2 linked regions of the Homo sapiens genome follow. The protein of the gene in region 1 purifies or fractionates together with the protein of each later gene. This does not show direct contact. Each region holds a gene or a part of one and is shown in the gene's direction. Other genes may lie near its edges.

Evidence for each region.
Region 2: the proteins of MYCBPAP (region 1) and IQGAP3 purify together in Homo sapiens (affinity purification with mass spectrometry; one large-scale study listed by BioGRID and IntAct). This does not show direct contact.

Annotation. Positions count from the first base shown.
Region 1 is NC_000017.11:50,521,728-50,525,747, forward strand, and holds part of MYCBPAP (MYCBP-associated protein), read left to right. Parts: intron 1-245; coding exon 246-354; intron 355-1,027; coding exon of another isoform or gene 1,028-1,075; exon of another isoform or gene 1,076-1,205; intron 1,206-1,211; coding exon 1,212-1,401; intron 1,402-1,869; coding exon 1,870-2,057; intron 2,058-3,149; coding exon 3,150-3,296; intron 3,297-4,020. UniProt on the Homo sapiens protein: May play a role in spermatogenesis. May be involved in synaptic processes.
Region 2 is NC_000001.11:156,534,566-156,538,065, reverse strand, and holds part of IQGAP3 (ras GTPase-activating-like protein IQGAP3), read left to right. Parts: intron 1-744; coding exon 745-885; intron 886-2,818; coding exon 2,819-2,903; intron 2,904-3,332; coding exon 3,333-3,500.

The DNA of each region.
Region 1 (4,020 bases):
TCTGTGTATTTCTGTGTACTGTGAGTGGCTCTGGCAAGAGGGCTTAAAGAGTCTGTGTGTTTCTAAGAATCTCCCATCTACAGCAATGGGTCAGGAGGAAGCTGCGTGGGAGTGGAGTTGATCATACTCCATTGCAGGGTAGAGCTGGTTGTGTTTCTAGGCTTCCTGGTGACCGTTTCTGTGGGGTTCCACATGGCATGACTGTGGCAGCCTAAGAGAAAATAAGTCATTGGCTTTTCTTACAGAGGCACATTGGCCAGTTCCTCTGATGTCTCCATGCCTATTCTCGGCCCTTCTCTGCTGTTCTGTGGGAAGCCAGCTTGCTGGATCAGAGGCAGTAATCCACAGGACAAGGTAAAACAGCCTCCACCACACCTGCTGGGAGAGCCTCCCTCAGGGGTGCAGCCCTGAGGTGACTGGCAGTTACCAGCAGCCTGCACAGTCTCCTGTTTGGGTTTTTATCTGGTCGTGCATTCAGCACGTCTGAAAATGGTGACAGCAACACTGACTTGAGCAAGAATAAAATCACAAGGCTGCGAGTGTCATAAGCCACTTGGGGCTTATACCCAGCCCCCAAGCATGTAAACAAGCAAACTCAAGTAGGTATGGCTCTAAGAAGGTTCCAAAATATTCTTCAGATGCTAAGGAATAGAAGTGTTCATTGGATATAAAATATATTTTATCTGGCCAGGCGCAGAGGCTCACGCCTGTAATCCCAGCACTTTGGGAGGCTGACGTGGGTGGATCACCTGACATCAGGAGTTCAAGACCAGCCCTGGCCAGCATGGTGAAACCCCATCTCTACTAAAAATACAAAATAGCAGGGCGTGGTGGTGGGCACCTGTAATCCCTGCTACTTGGAAAGCTGAGGCAGGAGAATCGCTTGAACCCGGGAGGCGGGGGTTGCAGTGAGCTGAGATCACGCCATTGCACTCCAACCTAGGTGACAAGAGCGAAACTCTGTCTCAAAAAAAAAAAAAAAATATATATATATATATTTGTTTTATCTTCTCTTCTTGCTATTGAGGGTAACCTCAGAGACAACCACGCTGGAGTAGGATACCACTCTGTGTGACAGTGGCCAAGCCCTGGAGGCCTGGGACACGAGACTTGCAGTGCTAAAGCCAGAAAAGTCCTGGGCAGACCAGATGAGTTGTTCACTCTAGGCCAGGGTTTGCAGCAAAGACATTTCTTGTCCCTCCTCCTTCCAGAGGCAGGTTGGGATTGCTGCTCACTTGACCTTTGAAACCCTAGAAGGCGAGAAAACCTCCTCAGAACTGACTGTGGTCAATAATGGCACCGTGGCCATTTGGTATGACTGGCGACGGCAGCACCAGCCGGACACTTTCCAAGACCTTAAGAAAAACAGGATGCAGCGATTTTACTTTGACAACCGGGAAGGTACTCGGGAGAAGCCACCCTATGTGCTAGCTCCTGTCTGGGGCTGGTTTTGTCCTCCGTGAGACATCAAAGTTTAGTTATGGCCCAGCTCCTGTAAGTTTGAGCCCTGCTTCCCTGCCTTGTCCCTCTCATTCCTTCTGTGAAATGTGTGGCCTGACTACTCATGTCTGTTGAGAGACTGATGGAACTTGAGAACCTGGGGAGGTGAGCCACCAGGGAGCAGAAGCGTTCTAGGGGCTCAGTTATCTAGGTGCACAGGCCTGGGGCTAGGATGGCCAGCTGTCTCTGTTTGCCTGGGACTTTAGCACTCAAATTCCCACATTCCAGGAAACCTCTCAGCCCTGGGCAAACTGGGATGGTTGGCCAGCCACCTGGCCTGGGACTCAGTTAACTGCATGTAGGAGCATGTAGGCCTGGGGCTCAGCCAGCTCCTGCATGTTGAAAACCTCGGGTCTCTGTCCCTCTCAGGTGTGATTCTGCCTGGAGAAATTAAAACATTTACCTTCTTCTTCAAGTCTTTGACTGCTGGGGTCTTCAGGGAATTTTGGGAGTTTCGAACCCATCCTACTCTATTAGGAGGTGCTATACTGCAGGTCAATCTCCACGCGGTCTCCCTGACCCAGGACGTTTTTGAGGATGAGAGGAAAGTACTGGAGGTAAGGGACCCAGGACCATGGCCCCTGTGGACATCAGGTAGGGTATCCTGGTGTTCTTCCTGGCAGTGACTGAAGGGATCATATTTCTCCCAGCCTAAGAGGAGAATTGGATTTTTAGCAAACAGGTAACTACTCTTGCTCCACAAACACTTCCCAGGGCTTGTGATTTAAAAGATGGGTGCGCTGGCTAGGCAGGCATGGAGCAGCTTGCAGCAATGCCATGCATGGCCCCACTGAGTTAGAAAGAAATTAGACTGAGCCTTAAGAGGCAGACTGTAAAGTACAATGTGTGGCCCTATGTACTGGTCTGTGTTTTGTTCATCGCTGTCTGGTACTACACAGTGGAGTTGCATTTAAGCGACAAGACTTCAAAACCAGGGAGAATAATTAATTAATACATAGCAGCATGAGTCTGCCCACCGTCCCACTCAATCAGCTGACAACTCGAGTGAGTGTGAGGTGGGAGCTTGGAATCTGTCGTCCGCAGTCAGTTTCACAGTGTGGCCATTTGAGCCGTGCATCCTGGGATTTGGTGGAAAGCTGTGCTTTTTTATTCATTGTGGCCCCCAATCACAAGGCCGGCTCCTTCATGTGGGGCTCAGCCAGTGGTGATCAAAGGTAATTTTGACAATGTCATGCTTGCTTTACTCATTGACTGTACAACCCATGTCTCACACAAGGCGCCCCTCCCGTGTTTCTGTGACACTCACTGAAGCCTGATGAAGGTTCACCACCATCCTCAGAAGCACCCCCACTATGTGCCCTGCCCCTTCTTCCTAATCTGGTGACATGCTAACTGTGTGACCACCAGGCCCCAGGCAGCAGCAGCTGTCACTGGAACTGGCCCTCCTCTGGATCCTTTTCATCCATTTTTAGGGAACAAGGATGTCTGGAGAGACTCAGAGGTTTTCAGGTCTTAGAACAGGCGTGTGTGTGTGTGTGTGTGTGTGTGTGAGAGAGAGAGAGAGAGAGAGACAATGGCAGGAACTCAGACCCTAGGAAGGCACAAAGTCCTGGGGGCTCCAACTTCCTGAAGGATGCATTGGTTTTGATAGCCTGGGCTGCCATCCTCTGCCACCTTCCCTTTTGCAGAGCAAGCTGACTGCCCATGAGGCAGTCACCGTCGTTCGCGAAGTGCTGCAGGAGCTGCTGATGGGGGTCTTGACCCCGGAGCGCACACCATCACCTGTGGATGCCTATCTCACCGAGGAAGACTTGTTCCGGCACAGAAATCCTCCGGTGAGGCCCAGCGCCAGCCCCTGCCCCCTCATGTGTGCCCTGCGTCAAGGGTCCCCAACCCGCAGGCCGCACAGCGGCAGGTGAGCAGTGGGTGAGCCAGCATTACTGCCTGAGCTCTGCCTCCTGTCAGATCAGCGGTGGCATTAGATTCTCATAGGAGCACGAATCCCATTGTGAACTGCGCATGCGAGGGATGGAAATTGTACACTCCTTATGAGAATCTAACTAATGCCTGATGATCTGAGGTGGAAGTTTCATCCTGAAACCATTCCCCAACTCCCTGCCATCCGTGGAAAAATTGTCTTCCACGAAACCAGTCCCTGGTGCCAAAAAGGTTGGGGACTGCTGCCCTAGGTGACAGTAATAGCAAACTCTTTTATGTGCCAAGCTCTGTTCTGCGCATCTTCCATGAGTAACTCACCTCTCTTCACAGCAGTCCTATGAGATGGGTACTATTTATTTTTGTTTATTTTTTTAAGAAATAGCGTGTCATACTGTCACACTCCAGGCCAGAGTACAGTGTCCCACTCATAGCTCATTGTGACCTCAAACTCCCCGGCTCAGGTGATCCTCCCACCTCAGCCTCCTAAGTAGCTAGGACTACAGGCATACATCACCATGCTCAGCTAATTTCTCTTTTTTTTTTTGGTAGAGATAGGATCACTCTATGTCATACAGGCCGGTCTTGAACTCCTGAGTTCAAGTGATCTTCCTACCGTGGCTT
Region 2 (3,500 bases), on another chromosome or scaffold:
ACAAAAATTCGCCGGGTGTTGTGGCGCACTCCTGCAGTCCCAGCTACTCGGGAGGCTGAGGCAAGAGAATCACTTGAACCTGGGAGGTTGCGGTGAGCCGAGATTGCACCACTGCACTCCAGCTCTAGGCAACAGAGTGAGACTCTGTCCCCCCGCAAAAAAAAAAAAAAAAATTTGCTGGGAGTTAGGATATGGACTCCTATTGATAGGGGTATAGAAGAATATTTCTATTTACAGATGAATAGGCAAATGAGATAGTGGGAGAGATAGGTTGCCCTTATAGCCTGGGGTCATTACTCAGGTCCCTAGGTGCTAGGGAAACCTAGCCACAGAGGCGAGCAGGCAATCCTGGTGGCTGCTCTGGATGGCACAGGAGGCTTTAGGTGAGGGAACTATAAGGCTCTGGCCCAGCCTCTCCATTATTCCAAACTCCCAAAGACTATTTGCAGCGCAGCCGCCTGCTTGTCATCTGTTCCCCTTAGAAGGGTCCCTAGATTCCACGTTCTCTGTTCCTTCCTACATTCTTCCAGCTTCCCTGTAGATACTCCAACTCTTCTTTACCTCCCGACTGCATTTCTCCAGTCCTTTCTCTCATTCTGGCCCTTTCTCCTTTAGCATGCTGAGCTGTCCTTAGCACATCTGTATGAGATCTTGTTGTTAGACAAGCGTTTAAGGAATAGGGCCTTGGGGAAGGAGGCCATTGGAGGGGGCTCCTGCTTACACCTTGTCTCTCTCTGCTCATAGCCATCTCCCATATGATGTCACCCCGGAGCAGGCCTTGAGCCACCCCGAGGTCCAGAGACGACTGGACATCGCCCTACGCAACCTCCTCGCCATGACTGATAAGTTCCTTTTAGCCATCACCTCATCTGTGGACCAAATTCCGTATGTGCAACAGCCCCACCCCAGCCTACGCATGGGATTTCAAGAGGGCCAGGCCACCATGGGGAGCAGAGCAGGGTGATAGTCCTGCAGGGAGGAAGGCAGGGAGGGAGATGGAGCCAGGGGTACTCAGAGGGGTTCCTGAAGAGATGTGGGGAATGCTCGAAGCTCCTGCTAGAGAGCTGAGCTGAGAGACGGCGTGCAAGTCTGTGTGTGGCCTGGTAGGATGTCAGTGGAACCAGAGGAGGGACCCTAAAATGATCTCAGGGACACTTTATTAGCTAAGAGCAAATGAGGAGAAAATGGGACTCTTCAGTTCCCAATATCAAAAATAAATATTTTAAGCCCATAAAGTACTTTATAGTTCTCTCTTTTCTTAAAATTTAGTCAATACGTTTGGTTTTCTACATTTATTTTTGACACATGATAATTGTACATATTCATAGGGTATAGTGTGATGTTTTGATACGTGTATACATTGTGCAATGAATGATCAAATCAGGGTAATTAGCATATCTATTACCTCAAACATTTATTTCTTTTTGGTGAGAACATTCAAAATCCTTCTAGCTATTTTGAGATATACAACACATTATTATCAACTATAGTCACCTTCTGTGCAATAGAGCACCAGAACTTATTCTTTCTACCTGGATGTAACTTTGTACCCATTGACCAACCTCTCCCCATCCTCTCTCCCCTTCTCCTACCCTCCCCAGACTCCGGTAACCACCATTCTACTCTCTACTCCTGTGAAATCACCTTTTTAAGATTCCACATATGAGTGAGATTATGCAGTATTTGTCCTTCTGTGTTTGGCTTATGTATGTCACTTAACACGAACCTCTACGTTCATCTATGTTGTCGAAAATGACAGGCTTTCATTCTTTTTTTGTTTGTTTTTCTTTATTTTTTATTATTATTATTTTTAAGACAGGGTCTCACTCCATTGCCCAGGCTGGAATGCCCAGGGCAAGATGAGGATGTTGAAAGGGGGAACCCACAGAGTTTATAACCCTGCTCCCCAAACCTGGAGAACCGGATTAAGAGTTTACAATTAGGAGTAAGAAAAGATTGTTCTAGGCTTAAGAAAGTAAAGTACACAATGAGCTGTAAACTTCTGTCTCTGGTACCCTAGGAGTGGAAATTGCTTTTAAATGAATTTAATTACATTTGTAGGTGGCACATCCATAATAGGAATAATAATGATAATACAGTCTAGCACATTTGAATAGTACTCTACCATTATACGTTACTCTCGCAGACATAATTTCACTTGATCCTCAAAAAGCCCTGTGAGAAGAGAAGGCAAGAATGATCATTCCCATTTTCTAGACCAGGGGACAGACTTACAAAGGAGAAGGAAATAGTCTAAGATAATATCTCTGGTTGGTGGTGGAGTCCAAACTGGAGCTTCTCCTCCCGGCTCACTGATCTCCTTGGGGCCCTACCTCTAGCCCAGACTAGGCCACTCACAGATGCTCTGTGACAGCTGACAAGGTTGACTACCTCGGAGCCACCTAGGCTGTCCTAGGACAGGGTTTTGGCTGTGAGTGTCAGATACCCAAGCTTTAGGTTAATGGTGCCTCTGGGGGATGGGGGATGGCTATGGTGAGCTGGGGTGCTCTGCAGGGGACCCAGAGAGTCTCAAAGAAGAGGTTCTCGAGCCAGGTTGGAGGCTGTGTGAGAGATTTAGTAGATGATAGGGCCCTGGTCCTGACTACTGACATAAGGCAGGAGGAAGGGACAAGGCCCAGAGACGTTTGGAGGAAGGCAGCAGGGAGCTGGCTATGGCTAGTGGAGGGACAGTGCTTGAGCTCTACTCTGGAGTGGCTGAGCCTGGGGGAGAAGAGACAGCCAGGCACTCAAGCTCTTATCTCTGGCAGAGAGAGATGGGCAGAGGCACAGCCACGCGCACCTGTTTCTTTGTCCCCAGGTATGGGATGCGATATGTGGCCAAAGTCCTGAAGGCAACTCTGGCAGAGAAATTCCCTGACGCCACAGACAGCGAGGTCTATAAGGCAAGTGTTGTCTCCCCACCCCCACCTCCCAATCCCTCCTTTGCTTTGCTGGTACCTGCAATCCCCAGACTGAGACAAAAACACAAAAAATCCTATGCCATAAAAATCCAAGGAGGGAAATATGCTGCCCCCTATAAATGGAGCCTGGCTCACCCGCAGGGCTTCAGGTGGCAGATGGCTCATGCTGGGGTGTGAGCGAACAGAGTGGGCAACACTGGCTTCTTGTCAGGAGATCTGGGTTCAAGTCCCAGCTCTTGCTCAGGTTTGCTGTGTGGCCTTAAGCAAGTTGTCTGCCTGCTCTGGGCCTGTTTTCTTTGAAGTGAGGGGGTTGGCCCAGGTGTCCCTTCCAGCCAAGCAAGCTGAGAATGTGGGGCCGCACCAGTCAAGGCGGCCCCTGGACACTTCTGGGAGAGTCTCCTTTGCCCTCAGGTGGTCGGGAACCTCCTGTACTACCGCTTCCTGAACCCAGCTGTGGTGGCTCCTGACGCCTTCGACATTGTGGCCATGGCAGCTGGTGGAGCCCTGGCTGCCCCCCAGCGCCATGCCCTGGGGGCTGTGGCTCAGCTCCTACAGCACGCTGCGGCTGGCAAGGCCTTC